Homo sapiens: one gene and its partners. The protein of the gene in region 3 interacts with the protein of the main gene of each other region in a pairwise test. Each region holds a gene or a part of one and is shown on either strand. Other genes may lie near its edges.

The links.
Region 1: the proteins of U2AF1 (region 3) and NKAP interact in a two-hybrid assay, tested with the Homo sapiens proteins (one large-scale study listed by BioGRID).
Region 2: the proteins of U2AF1 (region 3) and FRA10AC1 interact in a two-hybrid assay, tested with the Homo sapiens proteins (one large-scale study listed by BioGRID).
Region 4: the proteins of U2AF1 (region 3) and CHERP interact in a two-hybrid assay, tested with the Homo sapiens proteins (one large-scale study listed by BioGRID).
Region 5: the proteins of U2AF1 (region 3) and DHX38 interact in a two-hybrid assay, tested with the Homo sapiens proteins (one large-scale study listed by BioGRID).
Region 6: the proteins of U2AF1 (region 3) and ALG13 interact in a two-hybrid assay, tested with the Homo sapiens proteins (one large-scale study listed by BioGRID).
Region 7: the proteins of U2AF1 (region 3) and CPEB2 interact in a two-hybrid assay, tested with the Homo sapiens proteins (one large-scale study listed by BioGRID).

What each region holds. Positions count from the first base shown.
Region 1 is NC_000023.11:119,926,752-119,930,251, reverse strand, and holds part of NKAP (NF-kappa-B-activating protein), read left to right. Parts: intron 1-86; coding exon 87-236; intron 237-3,500. UniProt on the Homo sapiens protein: Acts as a transcriptional repressor. Plays a role as a transcriptional corepressor of the Notch-mediated signaling required for T-cell development. Also involved in the TNF and IL-1 induced NF-kappa-B activation.
Region 2 is NC_000010.11:93,692,593-93,696,092, forward strand, and holds part of FRA10AC1 (protein FRA10AC1), read right to left. Parts: intron 2,346-3,500; coding exon 2,269-2,345; intron 138-2,268; coding exon 54-137; intron 1-53. UniProt on the Homo sapiens protein: May be involved in pre-mRNA splicing.
Region 3 is NC_000021.9:43,092,456-43,095,013, forward strand, and holds the end of U2AF1 (splicing factor U2AF 35 kDa subunit), read right to left. Parts: intron 2,334-2,558; coding exon 2,200-2,333; intron 2,109-2,199; coding exon 2,016-2,108; intron 795-2,015; coding exon 647-794; 3' UTR 501-646; downstream 1-500. UniProt on the Homo sapiens protein: Plays a critical role in both constitutive and enhancer-dependent splicing by mediating protein-protein interactions and protein-RNA interactions required for accurate 3'-splice site selection. Recruits U2 snRNP to the branch point.
Region 4 is NC_000019.10:16,528,938-16,532,437, reverse strand, and holds part of CHERP (calcium homeostasis endoplasmic reticulum protein), read left to right. Parts: intron 1-1,557; coding exon 1,558-1,669; intron 1,670-1,763; coding exon 1,764-1,853; intron 1,854-2,537; coding exon 2,538-2,790; intron 2,791-3,500. UniProt on the Homo sapiens protein: Involved in calcium homeostasis, growth and proliferation.
Region 5 is NC_000016.10:72,107,347-72,110,846, reverse strand, and holds part of DHX38 (pre-mRNA-splicing factor ATP-dependent RNA helicase PRP16), read right to left. Parts: coding exon 3,299-3,500; intron 3,203-3,298; coding exon 3,048-3,202; intron 2,621-3,047; coding exon 2,465-2,620; intron 2,375-2,464; coding exon 2,240-2,374; intron 2,048-2,239; coding exon 1,922-2,047; intron 1,433-1,921; coding exon 1,337-1,432; intron 1-1,336. UniProt on the Homo sapiens protein: Probable ATP-binding RNA helicase. Involved in pre-mRNA splicing as component of the spliceosome.
Region 6 is NC_000023.11:111,687,670-111,691,169, reverse strand, and holds part of ALG13 (UDP-N-acetylglucosamine transferase subunit ALG13), read right to left. Parts: intron 3,284-3,500; coding exon of another isoform or gene 3,169-3,283; exon of another isoform or gene 998-3,168; intron 1-997. UniProt on the Homo sapiens protein: Catalytic subunit of the UDP-N-acetylglucosamine transferase complex that operates in the biosynthetic pathway of dolichol-linked oligosaccharides, the glycan precursors employed in protein asparagine (N)-glycosylation.
Region 7 is NC_000004.12:15,064,981-15,068,480, forward strand, and holds part of CPEB2 (cytoplasmic polyadenylation element-binding protein 2), read left to right. Parts: intron 1-1,172; coding exon 1,173-1,400; 3' UTR 1,401-3,500. UniProt on the Homo sapiens protein: May play a role in translational regulation of stored mRNAs in transcriptionally inactive haploid spermatids. Binds to poly(U) RNA oligomers. Required for cell cycle progression, specifically for the transition from metaphase to anaphase.

The DNA of each region.
Region 1 (3,500 bases), on a different chromosome or scaffold from region 3:
GGATTTTTGGTGCTCTCTTTAGATTATAAGCTTTTAATATTAAGATGATTTAATGGACCTTTTCTGAATTCTGAATTACTTTGTAGCTATGGCCATGCTCTGTTACCTGGTGAAGGTGCAGCTATGGCTGAATATGTAAAAGCTGGAAAACGTATCCCACGAAGAGGTGAAATTGGCTTGACAAGTGAAGAAATTGCATCATTTGAATGCTCAGGTTATGTAATGAGTGGTAGCAGGTATGTTGTTGGCATTAAGCTCAGTTTCCATGATTAGATCTTTTTCTTCTTTTTTACTACCAGAATTATATTTTGGTAATTGATTTTCATTAAGTGACTGTTTCTTATGAAAAGTAGAGTATAAATATTGGTTTGATATTAGTGTTGTTAGTATAACATGGTTTTCTGCAATTCCAAGTATATATGCAACTCAGCCTCAAACTCAGCTATATCTCTGACTTCAAAGAATCAATCTTCCTAATGTCCTTTCCTAGTTGGTATTTGCTTACAGATATTTTATCCACTGGAGGATATAGTTAAATTCAGCTATTTATCACTGCCCCATGAGGAATGTGGCAGTTAGGAAAATATTTTCACAAGACAGTGTTTCCTGGTTACAAGTTTGTCTTCAGTTTTTTATGGACCCAGATTTCTGAGACTGAATAACAGAAAAAGATGATAAAAGACATTGGTCAGCTGAGAATATATCCTGGCTAATAAATAAATGAATAAATAAATAAATTTTAAAAAGACACTGGATTCAGCATGGGAAATGAATATAAAATTAGGAAAGAGAAAAGTTCCAGGAAGAACCAGGAGAATGAGCAAATAGGGCAGCAGTACTTAGATCAAATTGAATTTTGGATTCTTTAAAACTTGATAAACTTTTTTTTTAAGTAGATAACTATTTTTAAATGACACTGAAGGCAAATATTTGCAGAAACCCTGAAGCACCTCCAGAATCTTGTAATACTGAGGACCAATATTTGAAGCATTGCATTGGAGGACCCACACAGTAAGGCAAGAAAAAGAAATTAGAGACACAAGGATTGGAAAGGAAGGCTGGGCACGGTGGCTCATGCCTGTAATCCCAGCACTTTGGGAGGCCAAGGCAGGCAGATCACTTGAGTCCAGGAGTTCAAGACTAGCCTGGGCAACATGGCGAAACCCTTCTCTACTAAAAACACAAAAATTAGCCAGACGTGGTGGTACACACCTGTAATCCCAGCTACTCAGGAGGCTGAAGCAGGAGAATCGCATGAACCCAGGAGGCGGAGGTTGCAATGAGCCAAGATCACACCACTGCATGCCAGCCTGGAGAGCAAAACTCAGCCTGAAAAAACAGTAATAATAATAATAAGGATTGGAAAGGGCGATATAACAATGTCATTTTTTAGCCAGGCGTGGTGGCTCACGCCTGTAATCCCAGCACTTTGGGAGGCATAGTTGGGTGGATCACCTGAGGTCAGGAGTTCAAGACCAGCCTGGCCAACATGGTGAAACCCTGTCTTTACCAAAAATACAAAAATTAGCTGGGCATGGTGGCGGACACCTGTAGTCCCAGCTCCTCAGGAGGCTGAGGCAGGAGAATCACCTGAATCCAGGAGGAGGTTACAGTGAGCCAAGATCGTGCCATTGCACTCCAGCCTGGGTGACAAGAGTGAAACTCCGTCTTAAAAAAAAAATGTCATTTTTTTGTGAATGACATGGTGAATGATTTGATTGTTTACATAGAAAATCCCAAAGAATCTCCAGATAAATTATAAATGAGAGGAGGGTTTAACAACTGGTTGGATATAAGGTTAGTACACAAAAATCCATTGCATTTCTATTTACCAGCAACAGACAACTAGAAAATGTAACTAAATAAGAAGAAAACATTTGTAATAGTATCAGAGAATATGAAGGACTTCAGAATAAATCTTAACAAAAGATGCCCAGGGCTCTGTGAGGAAAACTATAAAACATTATTAAGAGATTGTGTATTCAATACAGTTCCAATAAAAATGAACTGCATTTCTATTTACTAACAACAGAAACCTAGAACCTTGAACGTTTATAACAGTGTCAGAATATGAGAGACTTAAGAATAAATCTTAACAAAAGATGCCCAAGGTTCTATGGGGAAAAATGTAAGACATTAAGAGTCCATATCTTCAATATAGTTCCAATCAAAATCACAACACAGTTGTTTATGAGACTTATTAAGCTGGTTCTAAAATTTATATATTACACTAAAAGGACAAGAATAGCCAGGTCACTTCTGAAGAAGAAGAGCAAGAAGGTAAGATTAAAGAAAACTTAAATAGCTGGAGAGATACCAGGTTCACGGATAGGAAGGCAATATTGTAAAGTTGTCATTTCTTCCCAAATTGATCTTTATATTCAATACAGTCCCAATCAAAATCAGAACACAGTTTTTCATGAAACTTAATAAGCCAGTTCTAAAATTTATATACTAGACTAAAAGGACAAGAATAGCCAAGTCACTCCTGAAAAAGAAGAGCAGGAAGGTAAGATTTCCCCTACAAATAGGAGGACTTATTATGAAGCTTACAGCACTTTAGAAAGCATAGGAGAACAACTGAATTGTTCAGTGGAATAAAATTCAGGCCGGGCGTGGTGGCTCATGCCTGTAATCCCAGCACTTTGGGAGGCTGAGGCGGGTGGATCACCTGAGGTCAGGAGTTCAAGACCAGCCTGGCCAACATGGTGAAACCCCATCTCTACCAAAAATACAAAAATTAGCTGGGCGTGGTGGCTAGTGCCTGTAGTCCCAGCTACTTGGGAGGCTGAGGCAGGAGAATCGCTTGAACCCATGAGGTGGAGGTTGTAGTGAGCTGAGACCTCGCCATTGTACTCTAGTCTGGGCAACAAGAGCAAAACACTATCTCAAAAAAAAATAAAATAAAATTCAGAGCCCAAAGATAACCATACACGTATGGAACTTCAGTGTATGAAAGAGATAGCATGTCAGATCAATGGGGAAAGAAAGAACTATTCAGTACATGAAATAGGAGGCTGAGGCAGGAGAATCGGTTGAACCTGGGAGGCGGAGGTTGCAATAAGCCGAGATTATGCCACTGCACTCCAGCCTGGGTGACAGAGGGAGACTTGGAAGTTAAATCCACTGATAAAAACTGCTGTTCAATTACAGATTTAGACTTGGTTCTTTTTTTTTTTTTTTTTTTTTTGAGACCTAGTTTCACTCTTGTCTCCCAGGCTGGAGTACAGTGGCGCAATCTCAGCTCACTGCAACCTCCACCTCCTGGGTTCAAATGATTCTCCTGCCTCAGCCTCCCAAGTAGCTGGGATTACGGGTGCCCACCACCACACCCAGCTAATTTTTGTATTTTTAGCAGAGACGAGGTTTCACCACGTTGGCCAGGCTGGTCTTAAACTCCTGACCTCAGGTGACCTGCCTGCCTCAGCCTCCAAAAGTGCTGAGATTACAGGCGTGAGCCACCATGCCCAGCCTAGACTTGGTTCTTTTGGTTTTATGGT
Region 2 (3,500 bases), on a different chromosome or scaffold from region 3:
AGGAGAAACAGGACTAAAGCATTTGATGCATTACGCCTCTGATGGCTAATTACCAAGTCATGTCCATTTCGTCCTCCTCATTCCATAGGAATCTATGATTTTCTCGTATAACATCCAAGTCTGTCTTGTCATTTTCCCTGGAAAACAGAACTTTTTCAATTTAATACAAAAACAAAAGTAGTCAAATTTAGGTTAAATAGCTCTGTGAGTTTTGGAAAATTTTATTAAAAATATAATACATGAAGATAGTTTTTTGGTGAGTATAAATTTGTTCACATATTTATAAAAATATTTCAGTATTTTCAAAAGGCACTTATAAAAATACTACTACAGAAGCAAGTTAAATGGATAAGGAATCTGTCTGTAGCATTGGTTTCAATTATACAAATGGTGCTAAGTTACCAAAGCTAGAATGAGAAACCTGACTAAACACTAAATGAATAAAGTGAATGAAAATAAGTTTCATTCTAACCAACCACTCTGCTGAGATTTAATTTTAAAAAATATGAAAAGTTTTCCGTATCTCATTTTACTAGTTTCCTAGGTAGAAGACTGAGTAAAGGAGGAAGAAAGCCAAAGGGATTGACCTTTCAAAATAAAATGCTAACAGTCTGGGGGTAAAAAAAAAAAGGAAAAAAAAAAGTGATTGTTGGGAGATATAGGATAAATTGATAGGTGAGATAAATTGGGGGTAAATGAGGTGGTACTAAATTTTCTCAGAGTCCTACCAACTCAGAAAATTGTTAGAGGGAAAAAAAAAACCTCACATAAAACTAAGAAGTTCTAAGACACACACACACTATAGCAGCACAATTCGCAATTGCAAAGCTATGGAACTGACCAAAGTGCCCATCAACCAATGAGTGGATAAAGAAAATGTGGTGTGTGTGTATATATATATATATATATATATATACACCATATATATATATATACACCATATATATATATATATACACACATACATACACCATATATATATACACACCATATATATATACACACCATATATATACACACCATATATATATACACACCATATATATACACACCATATATATATACCATATATATATACACCATATATATATATATATACCATATATATATACACACACCATTTATATATACCATGGAATACTACTCAGCCATAGAAAGGAATGAAATGATGTCTTTTTGCAGCAACTTGGATGGAGCTGGAGGCCATTATTCTAAGTGAAGTAACTCAGGAATGGAAAATCAAATATCATATGTTCTCATTTATATGTGGGAGCTAAGCTATGAGGATGCAAAGGCAAAAGACTGATATAATGGACTTTAGGGACTCAATGTGGGGGAAGGCCAGAAGGGAGGTGAGGGATAAAAGACTACATTTTAGGTATAGCATACAGTGCTTGGGTGATGGGTGCACTAAAATCTCAGAAATCACCACTAAAGAACTTATCCAGGCAACCAAAAACCACCTGTACCTCAAAAACTATTGAAATAAAAATAAAAATTTAAAAAAACAAAAACAAAACAAAACAAAAAACAAGTTCTGATAGAAGAGCCTTAAACATGGGAAGGACTTTGATGTGCAAGAAATGCTAGACTGAGAGTTCTTGTTTACCTATCTTTTAAAAAGCAATCCCAAACATCAAGGTATAAAAATTTCCTTATTTCAAAGATCTTTGCCAAGAAGACACATGAGTATTCTTCAGATATTCTTTTATCACCAGGGTTGTGCCCGGCTCAGCAGGTAAAGAGTCTACCTGAGGCCTGTCCAAAAAAATGGGATTCATGAAGAGCTACTCAGGAGCTGTGGATGGTATCTCTACCTTATAATATAAAAAAGAAACTGGGGCCAGGTGCAGTGGCTCACGCCTGTAATCCCAGCAGTTTGGGAGGCCAAGACAGGTGGATCACAAGGTCACGAGTTCAAGACCAGCCTGGCCAAGATGGTGAAACCCCGTCTCTACTAAAAATACAAAAATTAGCCAGGCATGGTGGCAGGAGCCTGTAATCCCAGCTACTCGGGAGCCTGAGGTAGGAGAATCGCTTGAACCACAGCGGCACAGGTTGCAGTGAGCCGAGATCAAGCCACTGTTCTCCAGCCTGGGCGACAGAGTGAGACTCCATCTTAAAAAAAAAAAAAAAAAAAAAAAAAAAAAAAGGCACACCGGAATAGAAAGCAGGGAAGAATGACAGAATCAGAAGGCACAGTAGCTGTGGGTCTTTAAAGTTTCCCATAACCCACATTCCCTTCTATGTAAACTTCCTGATACTTACCCCAAACGCTTGAAGTCTTCTTTTTTGCCACCATAGTATAAAATATAGTCATTTACGAACTTTGTATGTCTTTGATACTGAAATGCAAAAAATTAAGGATTTTATTCTCTTAGGAGCTGTTTGGTGTCATAATATATTGCTGATTGGTGGTAAAAAAAAGCACAATATGAGTCTATTTAGCTTTTTAAAAATATTCACACACTATACATGCTTACACATTCAGAAAATCTAGAAGGGTATATATTAAATTGTTGAAAGTGAAGATTGTAAAGTACAGGCTTTCTTTTGACTATTTTTCAAGCATATACTACTCTTGTGATAAAAATATACCTCCATCTGGGGAGAAATAGAGCTTCTTATTCTATTGCTGAACTGCATATAGCCTCCTACCACCACTCATTCTAATAATCACAATATGAAAAATTTAAAAATTATAGTTTCTAAAAGTAGAGAATTTATCTTTCATTATCATAAAATATAATTTATCTATTTTAGTAATGATAAAGCCTCTAAATAGAAGATGCAACTTTTATAATTATATTTATAATTTATAATTAAATCCCAACATTAAACTTTCAAAAAAGCAAATATAAAAAATCAATTTTTATAGTCTTTTAAATTCAAAGAATAAAATGCCATGTTTTTTCAAAGCATTGTAACAAAATATATGAGCATTTTACTTTTTGTTTTAAAAAGCTCAACAGCACTCTCTCTAGAGCCAAACATGCACATAATAGCTAACCTCACCTTCTACAATATTCTCTGTGACTATTAAACATGTATAGTGATTTAACTGATCATAATGTGTACTAACAGACAATTTAATCAGATTATGGTATTTCCATATTGTAACAAACCAGTTAATATTTCAGGAAAAAAAAAAAAGAGAGAGACAGAAAAACCAAATACCTGGAGATCTGGATTCTAGCTCTTGATCTACCACTAACTGGTCACATGACCATGGCAAGTCATGTAACCTATTAGAGCTGGGGTCAGCAAACATTTTCTGCAAACGGCCAGATGGTAAATATTTCAGGCTTTGCAAGCCATATGGTCTCTGTTGCAAATGCTCAGTTCTGCCATTTTAGCATGAAAGCAGCCAAAGACAACATATAAATGAAGCATGGCTGTATTCCAATATAATTTTATGTACAAGAACAGGTGGTGGGTGTAACTTTTGCTTCCGGGAAGATGGAGTAGGCAAAGATGTACTTCTCCCTATTCCTCATACT
Region 3 (2,558 bases):
CGGATCTGCACCGCAGGCTTCTGTGTCTCCCACAGCCATTGGCATAAGGAAACACGGACACGGACTACTGGCCCTCAGTGTGCCGTGTGAGCATCCACGCTCCCTCCCACGAACACATGGGGTTCTTGACACAAACTCGCAGGAACGAGAAGGTAACATGGGTCGGGCCCACCCACTGTGTCTCACCACAGATCAGCCTTCTTCCCAACATCAGTGCAGTCTACAGCGTGTCTACTGATTATAGCTAAGCACTTCTTCACTAACCAGTTAGAAAAGAAACCCCAAAAGGCTTTCCATGACAGCCTCGAGAAATTCCGGATTATTTAGCATGTAGATCTCACCTGGTATGTGTTTTATTTCATGCCCTAAGATAAAAAATATTATTTCATTTATACTCAAAGTGGTGGATGGATATTAATCTTTACCTCCAAGATGACTAGCAGATTTATAAAGAAAAAGAAATTTAAAGAACTTCCACAAGAAATAAGTTACACCAAGAATACTGTTATCACTACAAATTTTATTCAGAAACCCATCTTTGTATGTTTTTTTTTTTGTTGTTTTTTAAAAAAAATTCCCCTTATGAACTGGTTTGGTCAATCAACTACAACACTTTCTAGCAGACATAAGGTAAAAATGGCATGGCTCAGAATCGCCCAGATCTTTCACGATCTCTCGACCGCCTCCTGTCACGCTCCCGTCCGCCGCCACCTCCACCACCGCCACCGCCACCGCCACGACCACGGTCTCTAGACCGAGAACGACGCTCCCGGGATCGGGATCTTGATCTATGCCTGCAACCAAGGAAAATAAAGAAAACCGTGCCATCCAAACCACGGCACGCAGCACAGAACCACACCCACTCTCTCAACACGCGCAGCTCCTCAAGCCAACGGCACTGATAAGGAAAAACACTGCTGAAGAGACTGCACGCCGTGACTGAGACACACCCTGATTTCAGGTGTGAAAAGTTTCAGGAGAAAAAAATGTGCAACTTAGAAGTGAACAGGTGTAATACCTTGCATCTTCTGTCTTCTTCTAGAACCAACTCAAATGGTCACAGGAAATCATAATCAAAATGAGCTGGACACATACCATCTTCAACCCTCACTGACCCCACGCTTCAGGCGCTCATAGCTACTGTGTCCATCAGGTTTTTGGGCTGGGGAGAGCAGGCCTGTTTTTCTCTTATGCTTCTTGAATGCTGACAATAAAACAATCGCCACCCATCTATTTACTAGTCCATGTTTAACAGAAGAGGGATGAGAACCTCTCCAGACTCAGAACTCAATCGGTTCGATTCTGACGTCTTGATTTTCTCTGCTCTGTGACCTGTCGTACATTTAAATGTAGGATCAGAGAGATGTGACCGCTGGGCCTGATTCTGCCAGTGTCCCGAAGGGAGGATGCCAGCGATCCCAAGACATAATGAAATGCCCTAAAACCAACAAGCAAAACCAAAAGAAACCCCAGTGGACATGTGAAATATGTAAAGCAAAAGCTTGTCCAACCTGCAGCCCAACACAAATTCATCAACTTGCTTAAAACATTATGAGATTTTTTTTGCAATTAAAAAAAAAGTTATCAGCTATCATTAGTGTATTTTATTTGTGACCCAAGACAATTCTTCTTCCAATGTGTCCCAGGGAAGCCATCCCTGATCTAAAGGAGGTTACAACATCTATTCTTCTTCTTCGTAATATCTGGGAGAATAAACTGCATGCCCACTTTCACCACGAGCCTCATGTCCGCGGCTGCCCAGCTAACCGCCCTCTTGCTTGATTACTAAGATCTGATCTCTACTTGAGAAGTTGGATAATGAAGTTACCTGTGTGCAGGTGAATATTCTTCTCCAAAGAGGACATTTGGATATTTAAAAATATGTACTATGTTCTAAGCACTGCCTTTTAAAAAACAGAAACGACACCTATGCCAAAATTTTTTTTTTGGAAGGGGGAGGGTTGTGAGGGGAGAAAGAAGCCACTGAGCTTAACAACGGGCACAGGAATACTCACTTCTTGCGACGGCGGCCATACAGCTCCCGCCGCAGCTCTCTGGAAATGGGCTTCAAATGCATGAAGTTGCAGAAGCCGCCTCGTGTGCATTCTCTGTGGGTGGGTTGGAAGGAGACATTTACTACCTCGTGTGCACACGGCCCCGAACTGTGCTCAGTCACGTCACTGGCCACTCCTCACTCACCCCATCTCATACTGACGGCAGCAGGCTTCTCTGAAGTCCGTCACGGGTGACAGCTCGGCGTGGATCGGCTGTCCATTAAACCAACGGTTATTCAAGTCAATCACAGCCTTTTCCGCATCTTCCTCACGGCGAAACTGAAAAGACAAAAACAGAAGTGCTTGCCATCCACGCTTTAATAAGACTTTCTCAATTACCAATCCAAGTATATCAGAGAGAGATATACACACTCAGGTATAGTAAGGTGGAATAGTATTACAGGATAATTGAAAAATCCTTTATTTTCAATGAGATTAACTTCAAGATAGTCCAAGATTTTGCCAAATGTTGCCTTCATTTTTCAAATTCAACTGGTTAAAGGA
Region 4 (3,500 bases), on a different chromosome or scaffold from region 3:
GGCTTCTGTCTCCAGGACTGCGAGGTCTAGGTGTCCTGTGCACCTTCGCTGCATGCCCTGTCCTCTCCCCTAGACCCCGGCCTCACCTGTCACATTGCTGTCTCCTGGGGGCCACTGTCCCCTGCACTCCTTCCTCTCATGGGGCAGCTTCTTGGCGTCTCCTTGTTGCCTTCTCAGCCACGGCCTCCTTGGCCTCTGTGTCTGTCTCCTGCCCTCGTCACTGATTTGCACGCACACACACGCGGTCACCTGACTTTGCTCAGCCATCAGGACCCTCCTTTGGGATCCCCTTCTCCAGCCCTGACCCATCTCTCAGGCTTCAACAGAGCCACATCTGCCGACCCTCTGTCCCCACCCAGCCCTCACCCTTCCCACTGTTGCTGTCTCCACCCTCCCCAAGGTTGGGTGGGTATTTCCTTCTACAGGGTCACTGGGGCCCTTCTCACAAAAATTAGCAAAAAAGAAAAAAAAAACAATAGAACCCCAGGCCAAAGGCCCGCACGTGCGGGAGGAGACAAGCATTGCTACTGAGCCTAGCGGGCAGCAGTCCTGGCCTGGCGCCTCGTGTGCCTCTACAGTGGGCCAGGCTGCCAGCACCCATCTCGCCCCATCTATCACATGCAGCACTGCCTGAGTCCCTCTTGCCTCCCCACCTCAGTCCCTGTTTCTCTCCTGCTGGGAAGTGAGTTGCGGCTCGGCACCAGCTCTGCCCTTCTGCTCCTCCTCATGCCTCCATTTCTCCCTGCCTCTGAGTCGGGTGCCTTGCACGGATGCACAGTTTCCCGCATTCTCCAGCCACGCGCCTCTCTAGCTCTACTCTGTCCGAAGCCAAGTGCTGCTCGCCCAGCCCAGGCCCTTGCTCCCCTGAGCCCCCTGCGGCAAGCTGAGGGCTGAGGGGCTTCCAGCTGCTCCCCTCCTGTCTTGCGTCCCTCCCCAGGGGCAGCCATCTCCCTGCGCAGCGGCAGGGGCCTCCCAGGCCAGGTATGCACAGTGTCCTGTGCAGCACTGCACAGCAGCCCTGAGAGGACATGGGCCCGGCGCCTCCCCCCGCTGGGCATCCGGTCACTCTTCTAAAGTGTTCTAGGTTCCTGAGGGACTGGGCACCCTCCCTCCTTCTCCCAAGAGGCCTGGCCTGGGCCGAGGTTTCCTTGTGCATAGTGAGTGACAAGGACAAGACCCCCACTCCGCAGCAGTCCCATCCCGCCCATCATACACAGGCAGGGGCTCCCGCCGGCCCATATCCCTTCACCCGCAGCGCCACCCAAGAGGGAAGGAGGGAAGGTTATTTCCTATCAAGGGGACTGGACCAAAAGGCCTTGCTCAGAACGGCCCCAGGCCACGTTCTCTCCCTCCCCTGCTTGCTGTTTTTCCATCTGTCCCTTCCTCGAGCCCAGGCACCAGCACAGGTCTCGTGGGAGCCCAGCCATCGCCCTGACCGGGTTGGGGACCCGATTCCCGAGAAGGCAGAGGGCGCTGAGGCTGGAGCCGCGATGGTAACGGGCGCGTGGCCGGGTCCCGCCCCAGGGCCCTGACGCGCGGAAAGTCTCTCCCTCACAGCCAGCGCAAGCAGGCCCGGGAGCTGCTGGCCGCCCTGCAGAAGGTCGTGGTGCCCATCTACTGCACCAGCTTCTTGGCCGTGGAGGAAGACAAGCAGCAGAAGATCGCCCGGGTGCGTGGGCCCCGGGCCGGGGGTTGGGCAAGACCGGGACACACAGGCCTTTCCCCTCCCCACTGACCCGGCCTCTCTCTCCTCCCACCGCCAGCTCCTGCAGCTCTGGGAGAAAAACGGCTACTTCGATGACTCCATCATTCAGCAGCTACAGAGCCCAGCCCTGGGGCTTGGTCAGTACCAGGTGAGTGTCCCTGCCCACCCACACCTCACCCTAGAGCTGGGGCGGGTTCCCCAGGAGGGTTTGGGAGTGTGGGGACAGCAGCTGCCACCCCAGCAGCCAGAGAGCCCATGTCCCCTGCCTGTGCTAGGAGTAGCCAGTGTGTGTTGACCAGAGAGTCCCAGGTGACATTTCCCAGGCCTTAGGTGTGTCTCCCTGACTTTCCTGGAACACTAGAACCAGGCGGCCTTTCGGAGTCATTGCACATGGCCCATTTGCTCTGGTGGTCAGGCATGTTCCGGTGTGGTGGAAGCATGAGGAAGCCCAGACGTGGCTTAGGCTGTGGCAGCCCCTCTTGCTGAGAGCCACATGGCGAGTGGGAGGCAGAGCCCATGAGCGTGTCCCAGAATGTTGGTGGGCAGTGTTCGCTGAGCAGCCACGAAGCGGCCAGGACACGGCTGTCGTTGCTCGTTCTGTTATCAGGGAGTCGTAAAACACGCTGCAGCGAACATCCTCATCCCCAAATCTCTGGCCAGATCCCAGCGCACACTGATTGCCCAGACTGTGTTGGCTGTTTCACGTGACGGTTCCCTGTCCACCTGCCCCAGGTCCCCCAGGCTCTGCTGCTTTCCAGGCGTTTGTCCTCTGGCGCCAGGCAGCGAGCCCCAAGGCCGCATACTGAGCAGCGGGTGCTCTTCTCTCTCTCAGGCCACCCTCATCAACGAGTACTCCTCAGTGGTCCAGCCGGTGCAGCTGGCCTTCCAGCAGCAGATCCAGACCCTCAAGACGCAGCACGAGGAGTTTGTCACCAGCCTGGCCCAGCAGCAGCAGCAGCAGCAACAGCAGCAGCAGCAGCTCCAGATGCCGCAGATGGAGGCTGAAGTCAAGGCCACGCCTCCACCGCCTGCTCCACCCCCGGCCCCAGCACCTGCCCCTGCCATCCCGCCCACCACCCAGCCTGGTACGGGGCTCCCTCAGCTCAGCCTGCCCCCAGGAAACAGCCCCCAGAGGCTGGGCACCGAGTGTAGTCAGAAAGCAGTCTGCCACCCTCAGACTCAGTTCTTGTTCCCTCGTCCCAGGCCTGCTCCTAGGCCCAGGTTTTCATCCATTTACAAGCACGAGCCAGGTGATCCTAGAGTAAAACTACAACCATCCCATTCCTGAACAGCAGAAGATCTGTTTCCTGTTCCCAGAGAAAAGAAATAGAGGAAAGGTACCCAGATCATTCCCCAAGACTAGGGTAACTATTACATCAGGCAGGAAGGACAATGCACAGACTGAAAATATAATTGGCTAGGCATGGTGGCTTACGCTTGTAATCCCAGCACTTTGGGAGGCCAAGATGGGCAGATCGCTTGAGCCCAGGAGTTTGAGATTAGCCTGGGCAACATGGTGAAACCCCGTCTCTACTAAAAATAGAAAAATGGTGCTCACCTGTCGTCCCAGCTACTTGGGGGCTGAGGTGGGAGGATCACTTGAGCCCATGAGATTGAGGCTGCAGTGAGCTGCATTTACACCACTGCACTCCAGCCTGGGTAACAAAGCGAGACCCTGTCTCAGAAAATACAATCTAGTGTCACTTCTGAAAAAGACACGGAAATACTGAAGGAAATCTTAGCAGAATCTAGCAAAGGATTTTGTTTTTGATTTTTTTTTGAGATGGAGTCTTGC
Region 5 (3,500 bases), on a different chromosome or scaffold from region 3:
GTGCTCCACATGGCTGCCTGCCCCAGTACCAAAGCCGCCTTCTCTTCTGCAGCTGAGGCCTGCTTTTTTCACTGACTCAAGACACTGGACAATCAGTCCTAACTCAGTCATCCCTCAGTCCAGGAAGTACTTACATTTCCTTCTTTTTTGAAAAATCAAGTTCACAACTATGCTAGGAAGTACAGAAAAACAGGGAAGATGTGATTACCTGCTGGCTGGAAGAGACAGGCATAAGATGCAAGGGAGCCTGGTATGGGGAGAATTATGCTACGAAAAGGGGTAAGCCAAAGCCCAGCACCATTTTGCAACCCTAAATATGGATCTAGGCAATGGCCATCAACAGACGCTAAAACCTCAAGATGGAGGAGCAGTGGAAACCTATCAGGGAAGAGGCAGGCTGCCACCACTGGGGCCCCTCATCCATCCTCCCATCAGCAAAGGTGGGGCCACCAGACCTCACATGCCTCCTGAAGGCATCTAAGAGGAGGTTCACAGTGCCACATGCAGGCATCTCTGCCACACGCAGCTCAGCCGGGATCTAATTGAGCGGTTGGACTCATCGCCAGCTTACAGCAAGTGCACGAAACACAGGCACAGGTTAAACACCGCTGTGAGCAAGCAATGAGGCAAATACATCATATGGACTATTCGACAGGACAAATGACCTGGCTGCTCCAATAAATCAATGTCATGAAAAAAAGCGTGGGGTGGAGCCTGTTCTAGAATGAAACAGTTAACACACATAAGCAGTTGCAATGCCTGGATCCTAATTCAAGCAAATCGATCATAAGAAGTTATCTTTGAGATAAATGGAGAAATCCAAATGCGGACTGGAGACTTAGGTGACATTAAGTATTCATTTTTTTATGAGTGATAACGGCACAGAGGTTATATTTAAAATTTTAAGTCCTTTTAGTCAGAGACACATACTCAAGTATTTATGGATGAATAATGTATGAGATAAGCTTTAAAATATTCCAGAAAAAAAAAATGGATGTGTGTGGAGTGGGGTAGGAATAGTGAAATTGAACAAACGTTGACAATTATAGAGGCAAGGCAACGAATTCATGGTGGCCTGTTGTACTGTTTTTCCCACTTTCATGAATATTTGGACTTTTCAATAATGAGTTTTTTGGTTTTGTTTTTAAAGGCTCAGCCTACCAAACAACTGGAGTGGGTGGTGGGGAATCAGACAGACCCAGCCTGCTGGATCACAGCCTTTATGTTTGCAGAGAGAAGTAAGTGGGTTGGATGACCGCAAGTCTTCAATACCAAGCGGAGGGAACACCGACCCCACAGGCAAACAGCACCCCTGCGAAGAGCACAGAATCCTCACCTGCCGTGACTTGCCCGCCTGTTTCACGCTATAGAACATGGGGCCCAGCTCCGCCAGCCACTCCCCGTCCACAGCGGTCACACACTGCATATACTCCTGCGGGCAGAAGGGCAGGGAGGCGAGGGTCACAGGAGGGCCAATGTCCCTCCCAGAGTGGTTCCACAATTAGGAGCCACATGGGAAGGGCCCAATCCCTGGCCCTGCAAGGCTGAAAAAAGGAAAGGAAAAACCCCAGATACTCCCATCCAAACTCCTCCACACTTGAGAAAATGCCCCCAGTATCTAAAAGAAAAGGCCCAACCCCTCCGAAAATCCTTCTAATGACACCAAGAGGGGTTGCTCATCCCAAGCAGCAAGTGGGGAACAATCGTGCCCATGCAGCTGAGGTCAATGCAGTCTAGAGGTCAACCCTGTGCAGAGCTTCCCCAAGTCCCCAAATGAAAACCAACCTCACATGCCCCGCAAAACAATGCATGTGGCCTCAAGGCTCCCAGGCTAAAAGCTCATGCCAGAACGCAGTGAAGGGTTTCAAAGCCTGGCCAGACAGGGGGCCTGCATTATGCAAGTGCCTTGGAAAAGACTCACCTTGGTGGTCATGACCAACTCGTGATACACTATGTAATCTGGGGTGTAGCCCATTCCAAAAAGGGAGCTGGTGGGGTGCAAGTGGCAGGGCATCCCTGTGCGGATGTTCACGTACTCCCCGATTCCCTAGGGAGGAGACACAACAGGCAGCCACATCAGGAAAACAACACCCATTTGGGCAGCGACCCCATCCCTTAACACTCTTGACACAGCCTTTGGCGGAAGCCCAGATCTGCAGAACCACACCAGGACAAAGGAAGAACTTTGCCCTTATACAGGTATCAGGCTGGGAGGGGCTCACTGGGCTCCTGGGTTCACCTTGAGCTTGGCTGCTTGGTGGAAATAGGCAGCACAGATGCACTTCCTGACGATGTCCCAGTCAGTGCCACACGAGGCCAGGCTCATCCGCTGCTGCACCATGATGTCCTTGAGTTGAGCTCGCACCTCCCGGACCTAGGGCAGGAGACGGAGGCACCAGGAGGGAGCCCTCCTTTCCTCTCGACCCTCCCCTCATCCCAACATCCTGCTCATCCACCACTCTACCTTCCGCATGGCCTTAGCATGGATGAAATGATCGTTACACCAGATGGTGGAGTAATTATTGTTCTTCCACTGCAGGTAAACATTCAGGTAGGTCAAATGATCGCTCTCAGGAACAGCGAACTTCTCCCGGATTTGATCACTCTCCTCCTCTCGACCCTAGGAAGGGAAAAAGAACCTTCACTCTAAGTACAGGGGGGTCCAGGCCCACTGAGCACATCCCAGAGGTTCTAACACTACCACCTACCCACACATAGAACTTCAAACATGTCAATAGGTTGCCCTGACAATTTGAGAAAAATTAAAATAATTTTTAAAAAGGTCTACTCTAAAACATGAGGGCTCAAGAGCAACCATACTAGAAGATAAAAAATGCTCTTGCAAATTTCCAAAGCATTCCCTGAGAACCACTGGCCCAGCCCTTCCTTTCCCCTACCCCAACCTGCTTAACCGAGAACAGCAAAATCATTCTTCAGAAACTCTGATTCTGCCCTCTGTTCCATTTCAGTAATACAGAGAGAAGCCATTCCCCTCCCCAACACTTCCTCGAGCCCTCCGGGGAGAGGGGAGCCAGCCGCTGCCCCACCTTGGGCCTGTAGAAGATGGCTGGGACCGAGAGCATGGAAACGATGAGCAGGATCTCGGAGCTGCAGCCCATGTCACAGGACACGATGAGCATCTTGGACAGGGCAGGGTCCAGCGGGAACTCCACCATCAGCCGCCCGGTAGAGGTCAGACCACCTAGGAGAGATGAGCAAACCCGGATATTTGACGGGACAGTAGAGGAAAGAAGGAAGTCAAGCGCCAGCACCCATGAGGCTCCCGGGGCCGCCTCACCTGTGTTGTCCAGGGCCCCGAGGATCCAGAGCTGATACATAGAGTTGAGCATGTTGTCCTCCGGGGGCGGGTCCATGAAGTGGAACTGCAGCAGGTCCTGCACCCCGAGGGACTTGAGCAGCAGCACCACGTTGGCCAGGTTAGTCCTCTGGATCTCGGGCACTGTGGTGGTCAGGAGCTCATTCTTGTAGGCGCTCTGGGT
Region 6 (3,500 bases), on a different chromosome or scaffold from region 3:
GAGATCACGCCATTGCACTCCAGTCTGGGTGACAGAGCGAGACTTGGTCTCAAAATAAATAAATAAATAAATAAATAAATGGTATTACATGTACAGCAGAAAATTGATCACCACATGGCTATCATGATGACCCTTTCCAAATGTTTCCCCAAAATTAATTTCAAATGATCTGTCCATGTGTCATTTCTCAGACTATATGAAGTGTTTTGGTCATCTCCACAAATTTTACATTTATGAACAAATCAGAGGAATTACGTGCTTATACCACAATAAAGGGCCAGGAAGAATATTTATATTACTGCTAGTCATTACTTAGTCTTGAAAAACTTCCTCAAACTAAATATTAAAGTGGCAAACAACCTTTTTGTACTCTTTTGTGCCTATATATGACTTGCCTTTAAAAGAATACAAAGTAGAGCCGGGTGCAGTGGCTCACGCCTGTAAAACCAGCACTTTGGGAGGCCGAGGCGGGCGGATTGCCTGAGCTCAGGAGTTCACGACCAGCCTGGGCAACACGGTGAAACCCCGTCCCTACTAAAATACAAAAAAAAAAAAATTAAAATTAAAAAGTAGAGGTCTAAGGTGTCCAAAATCAGATACTTGATGGTACTTGCAGATAATGACTACTTTTAAATGTTCCAGAACCCTATGTCAAATTCATTGGTTATACTATCTTACCAACAAATCCTTTGAGCTTTCTTTCCTCCCAAATTATAAGTATCTAAAATCCTTAATTCCCAAGGTCATCCCAAAACATCACATCTCTTTTCATCTACTCCAACCCGTAAATGTTCTATTAACTGTCTACCTCTTAATCTATCCATGGTGCAAATTTCCCAATGCTAAACTCTCTTTCATTTCCTTATCCCTGAAAATTTCAGTACCTCTAATAGAACACTGCTAAATAAACTGCATTCCACTTACTCATTAATATCAAGAACCTGCAGCTCTGTCATGTAATGAAACCAAACAAATAGAGCAAACATTTCAAACAGACTTTTGGTTACCATTCTTTAATAAGGACTAATAAGATGTAAATGTGGTGATTAATTTAGCATGTTTCCTCATCTGTAAAACTGGTGGTTTAAAATATTCTTTAAATTATCTCCCAACTCCAAAAGTCTACAATTCTGTCTTAAAGTCTTAATTTATTCAATCTACTATCAATCCTACCCAGAGCATTTTCCTAAATTCCAAAAACTCAGAAATCACAGATTTCTAAGTCCTAGGTAAGGTTGTCATACGCCAAAGGAAAACCCAGTTAAGTGTGAAATTCCTACTAAATAACTTCCATAAATAAACAAACAAAACCTACCTTGCAAGGAATTCGAGTAACTAAAATGAACACTAGGCAAACAACTATAAAGAAACAAAAAGCTTACAACATATATTATGCAGGGTAGAAAGAGCAGGGGACTGGGAATCAAGGAGCTGCTCCTAGGGGCAGTTCTGCCAAAAGCTATACTTTAAGCAAATGGTAAAATCTGAATATGATGGAATTGGACTAGATAATCTCAAGAATCCGTGCCAAATCAAAATGATTTTAAAGTCTCCTTTGACTTAAAAATCCAAAATCGATACAAAATTCCACAAAAGGGAAGTCAGAGGCGTTACTGCACACAATTGACAACAACGGCTTAAACCTCTGCTAAATGAAATAATGGAATTTAGGTTATGCATTATTCTGGGGAAGTAGATAGCAAAGGATTTAGGGGCTGTATAGCCTTTTAGTTGTCTGATATTTGAGTAGACCTTGCCTTTCATTTGTTTCTCTTTAATTCTTCATCATAAACTATAAAAACTAAGTGACCAACATAAAGTCACAATTTTCTCAAATGAGAAAAACGTATTTATGAGGGCCCAGAAAACACTAAAGATTCTCTCCCTGGATTTGAATAGGACCTTTCCTAAAACATAACATTGATATACAATTATGATTATGGTGCTGTGAATTCTCAACCAGATTACTCACTTTTTAGATTATTCTCAGCAAAATTTTAATCCAAGTTGGCTTCCTCCTGCTACCCAGAGTATTTCTTTGTCACCACCTTCTACCACTAGTAAGCATTTTTTTAATATTAGCCTAAATAAAACACAATCAGAAAAATAAACCTATAAAAACATGATAAAATGCATTCCAAATAAAATGTTTGGAACATTTAGCATGTTGGGATAATATGATTGGAATGGAAGAGAGGTCTTTATAGTGAATGTTCTATTTTGATAGATAAACTATATCTAAACATTGTACCAGAGAGCTATGGACACTTAAGGATAATCTACTGTAAAGGTCTTGAGACCACACACTCTAATCAGAAAGAACTTCATAATGTATCTTGCTCAAGTTAAGTCAATTTTAAAACCATATATTTAAGCCATTATATGCATCAGTTTATTGTTCATTCATAAAACTAATTTTATAAGCACATAAATTGTAAATTTCTGTTACAGTTAATGTTTCATTACCACTGTGAGAGGAGATCCTTAAAAAACAATAGTAAGTCCTATTGGTATAAGTCCTTTTTGATTATTCTTCTCAAACCAGTAAAGTTTTGACATTAGGCACGATTATTTTATCACTTTGTATGTTTTAGAAAAAAAAAGTGAATATATCCACTCCACTCTGTTCTTTAGGAAAAAAGTAGCTTTTCCAAGTACAAGAGATCAACTAACTTGATCATCTTTTTTAGGCAATGATTGAACTTTTCATTTCACAGAGCATAATCCATCATTTTTTAAATTTGGTTCCTTAGATTATAAAGCTAAAGATGCTAACTCTTATGTAAAATTTTTTTACATAAAAGTTGTTACTGTTTCATTTTTTTATTCTAAGGAGTATCAAACTAACTACATTTATAATCTTTGTGAAAGTTTTCAAATCTCATTCATTTTTATGATTCCAATTCCACTTGAGATTCTAGGAGAAAACCTGTGAATGCTCACTACATACTGAAGATTAGAAAAAAATCTAGTAATTTCACTAAACTGCAATTAGGATTTGGACCCAATGCAAATGTGCACAACATAAAATTTCCTATACATTCTATAGATGTAGGAAGTTTATTAATTATATTATTTTGTAAATATATATTATGTATTTAATTTGATTTAATCACATTACATAGGTTGAATTTGGGGGTTGCTTTTAAAGTGTTGAGAGTTTAGTGTTTATTTTTGTAATCCAACAACTTTATCCAAAAATGCAGAAAATTTTTCTGGCTGGCCAGGAGGATAACATTTCAGTGTTGATAAGTCCATTGACTGTAACAGCCCAGGAAGCGTGCTAAAACAAAAGAAGAAAAATATTAGGTAACATGGGAGAAAATTCCATACTTCATCTGCTGCCCACTGATGACTGAATCTAACTTCCAAGAATATAGTGGTACTTCTAAAAACTGCACATGTGAATTTTTATATATTTTAATAAGTATACATACTAGGATTATTAAAGCAATACAAAGAGTACTATAAAATGTCAATATAAATTCAGCAGATACCTT
Region 7 (3,500 bases), on a different chromosome or scaffold from region 3:
AGATACAAACAAGCAATTCAGAAAAGCCAAGTGTCGAATATACATAAAATATATTTATCCTAATCCTAATCAATGAAATATAAACAACAATGTAATTCCATTACCTGTCTATCAAATGAACATCCTACAGTTCTTGTAATCAACTTTTAGGTTGTTTCTAGTTTGTTGTTGTTCTTACAAATAATATTGCGGAAAATATCCTTATATTCATTTTCTGCACTCATGCAAGTATTTCAGTAGAATACATTCAGAATACAAACTGTTGGGTCATTACTTTTTACTATAGGCAACCTTTACTTTATGTCAATCCAGTCCTTCAGAACACTCAGTGTTCTGTTGTCTCCTAAGGAACGGCTGAGCTGTTATGCTGTCTGGCACTTTTCAGCCAAACAACAGTAAAAACCTTCCATTCATAAAGTTATCACAAGCAGGAAAGCAAGGCTATTGCAGCTAATAGTAGCTAATACTAATTTATAGAATATTTTACCATGTGCCGAGCACTGTCTTATGCTTTTACATTCACAATTTAAGCCTCACAACTCTGACAGGATCTGTTATTCCCACTTGACAGATGTGGAAACTGAGGTGGAGAAGTTTATCATTCAGAGCTGACTCCAGTCTGAAGTGTTCTGCCAAGTCAGACCTTCACAACGGGACTTGTGCTTTATATCTTATAAATTTACAGAAGTCTAGGCATGCCCTTTGTAAGATTCTCCACAGTTCTGGCTTGTCTGTGCCAGTTATTTCCAAGCAGAGTGTGACTCGCACCTGCAGTGGAGAGGCGCCGCCTTAATCAGTGGCTGTTCGGGTTCTGCCATCTCACAGGTGATACTGGAATGAGGGGAAAAGGTGTGGAAACTGTCTTCCATGACTACTTGATATCTCTTTTGTTTTTCACTCATAATCTCCCCTAACTCTGAAAATACCAGCACACAGGTGTTTCAAAGATGTTATTCAAGAAAGGTGAGAGTGGAATGTTTTGCAAATCAGATTTTTATAGATTTTTAAAGTGTTTTAACCTACTACATTGTAAAGCTCCTTCCTTGAGAAACTGCCCATTTCCTCAGCTTTTAATGCTGGTCCTTTTTTTCTGCTGTAGAACATTTTAAGTTATTACAGAATTTGATTTCTGAAGCAGACCCTAATGAGACTTAACTTTCTTTTTTTTCAAGGTGGAGGTAAAGCCATATGTGCTAGATGACCAGATGTGTGATGAATGCCAGGGCGCACGCTGTGGTGGAAAATTTGCTCCCTTTTTTTGTGCCAATGTCACTTGCCTGCAGTATTACTGTGAGTTTTGTTGGGCAAATATCCACTCTCGTGCTGGACGTGAGTTCCATAAGCCATTGGTAAAGGAAGGTGCTGATCGCCCACGTCAGATCCACTTCCGCTGGAACTAAGAATAGCAAACTGGCCTCTGTTTAACAAGGAAAGAAAGGGTGCATGTGGCTTACTGTGTCTGAAGATACTGACATGCAGAAGAAATAAGTGCATTCTTCTGCTTTTCACCCCAGCTATCAATACATGCATCTTTATCAGCAGCCAAAACACTACAAGCCTCTTGTTTTTCACCAAAACCCTACATCTCAGGCTTACTAATTTTTGTGATATTTTCATGTTCAAATAAAATGTTTTTTTGTATTTTCTCCAAGTTATTTTTATATGTAAAGTTAAAATTAGATATGAGAATGTTTTGCGTAGGGGCAACACAGTCTGCTGCTATATAGTGGGGGAAGCGTGCACTTATTTCTAAACATGGGTTTTTAACTTCAAGATCTGCCCCAGTAATTTACCAAAGGTAGCAAAATAATAGTGAAGATGGAATATGTCTGCTACAAATGCTTATTTTTATTGTTGCTATTTTCAGTGTATACATAAACTAAAAATTAGGGTTGATTTTTTTGCTCTCCATTTTGACTTGCAAGAAATAATACCTCAAGATAATCTGATTTATTAGCTATTTTTAAACATTTTTAATCACAAGCTGTATTAGCTTTGCTGCTATATAGGTGTTATGTGTAAATGCCACCTATTAATACGGGACTGAAAACGTTAGAGACACACTGCATTGCAGATAAAATGCAGGCAGCACAATATGGCCTAAACTGCCATAGTTTTAGAATGTGAAAAAAATGCATGTTTACTTACCTGTATACACCATATGCATGCACTAGAATTATTAACTAACGAGGTGAGGTATTGCAAATGTTCAAAAAAGCTCTCTTGAATCTAGGTAGCATGAACAAATTATAAAATTTGTTTAAAAAAGCAAACTTGCATGCATTATTGTGACTTCAAGTTTAAAAAATCGTCTTACATGTGTACAATATGCAAATTAGTTTTAGATTAGAGAGTGCAGCCATTTTGTGATCTGGTCAGTAGTGGAATTCGATTTTATGCAGACTGGATGTAATATTTGTAATCCCTGTGCAATTTTGTGACGTGCGGTTCTAATTCATGTGCAGTGATATAGTATAGATAAAAGAATGAGTAAAAGAAAATACAAGAATTCTAAAGAAAGTTGGTTTTAGCCCCTTTGATAGTCCATGGTTAAGACATCCTTTATAAACCAAAGATGGCCAGCACACTGCTAACCAGTCACCAAATGTAAGACCCATAAGAAACCCATATTTAAAAATCTGAATTTTTTAGAAGAATGCAAAACTTTAGTAAACCCTAAGTAAAGTCAAAATGGAGAAGGGGAAATATACAGATGGCTAGTTGCATAAAATTAAATTTTACCTTTATAAGACAATGGTGAAATCTGGCTTGAACTTGCTTATGTGTTTAACCTATAAATATTGGGGTCTTCTGTCTAAACTGGGGTCACTGTTGCATGGAACATTGTTCTTAATAGTTGAGAATTGCTTTTTTGAAAATTTTCATGAAGGAATTTTGGTAATGACTTTGCTTGCAGGTTTTTTGGGGTGTTTTGAGAAAGTGGCATGGAAACATGCAGTAGTTAATGAGTTTCTCTTGGTACTGAACACTATTAGAATATCATTAGTGATATTTTTTCTCTTTAGAGCATTTTTAATGCAACTAGCCCCTATATTTTAATGTAAGAGTTACTCTGCAATCTAAGCAAAGCACCCAACAATGGTAAATGTTTTTTAAAAATGCAGAACTAAGATTTTTGACTCTAAAGAGAGAAAATTACAAGGGTGTTGCCTTATAGCAAACCCTTGGGACAATCCTTCATGTGAGCAAAGTGTTGATCTTAATATTGGTTGTCTGTGGTGTGCTTTTTTGTACTGTAAAAATATGTGGTTCATGTCTAACTCTGCTGTTTTATTGTGGTTGTGGTTCAAGTTTTTAATGTTTAAAGTTGATGCTGTTTTCAGAAGAGCTTTTTACTAATTTATTTGTCAGTGTTCCCTATTTGTTACTTAACCATGATCCTCCAGATTTTTTGGAGTATTCTTTTCTAACCTTAACCCTGCCAAACCTTGATCCATTTTGACATTTGTTATGCACTATTTTTATATCTCTGTGAGAGA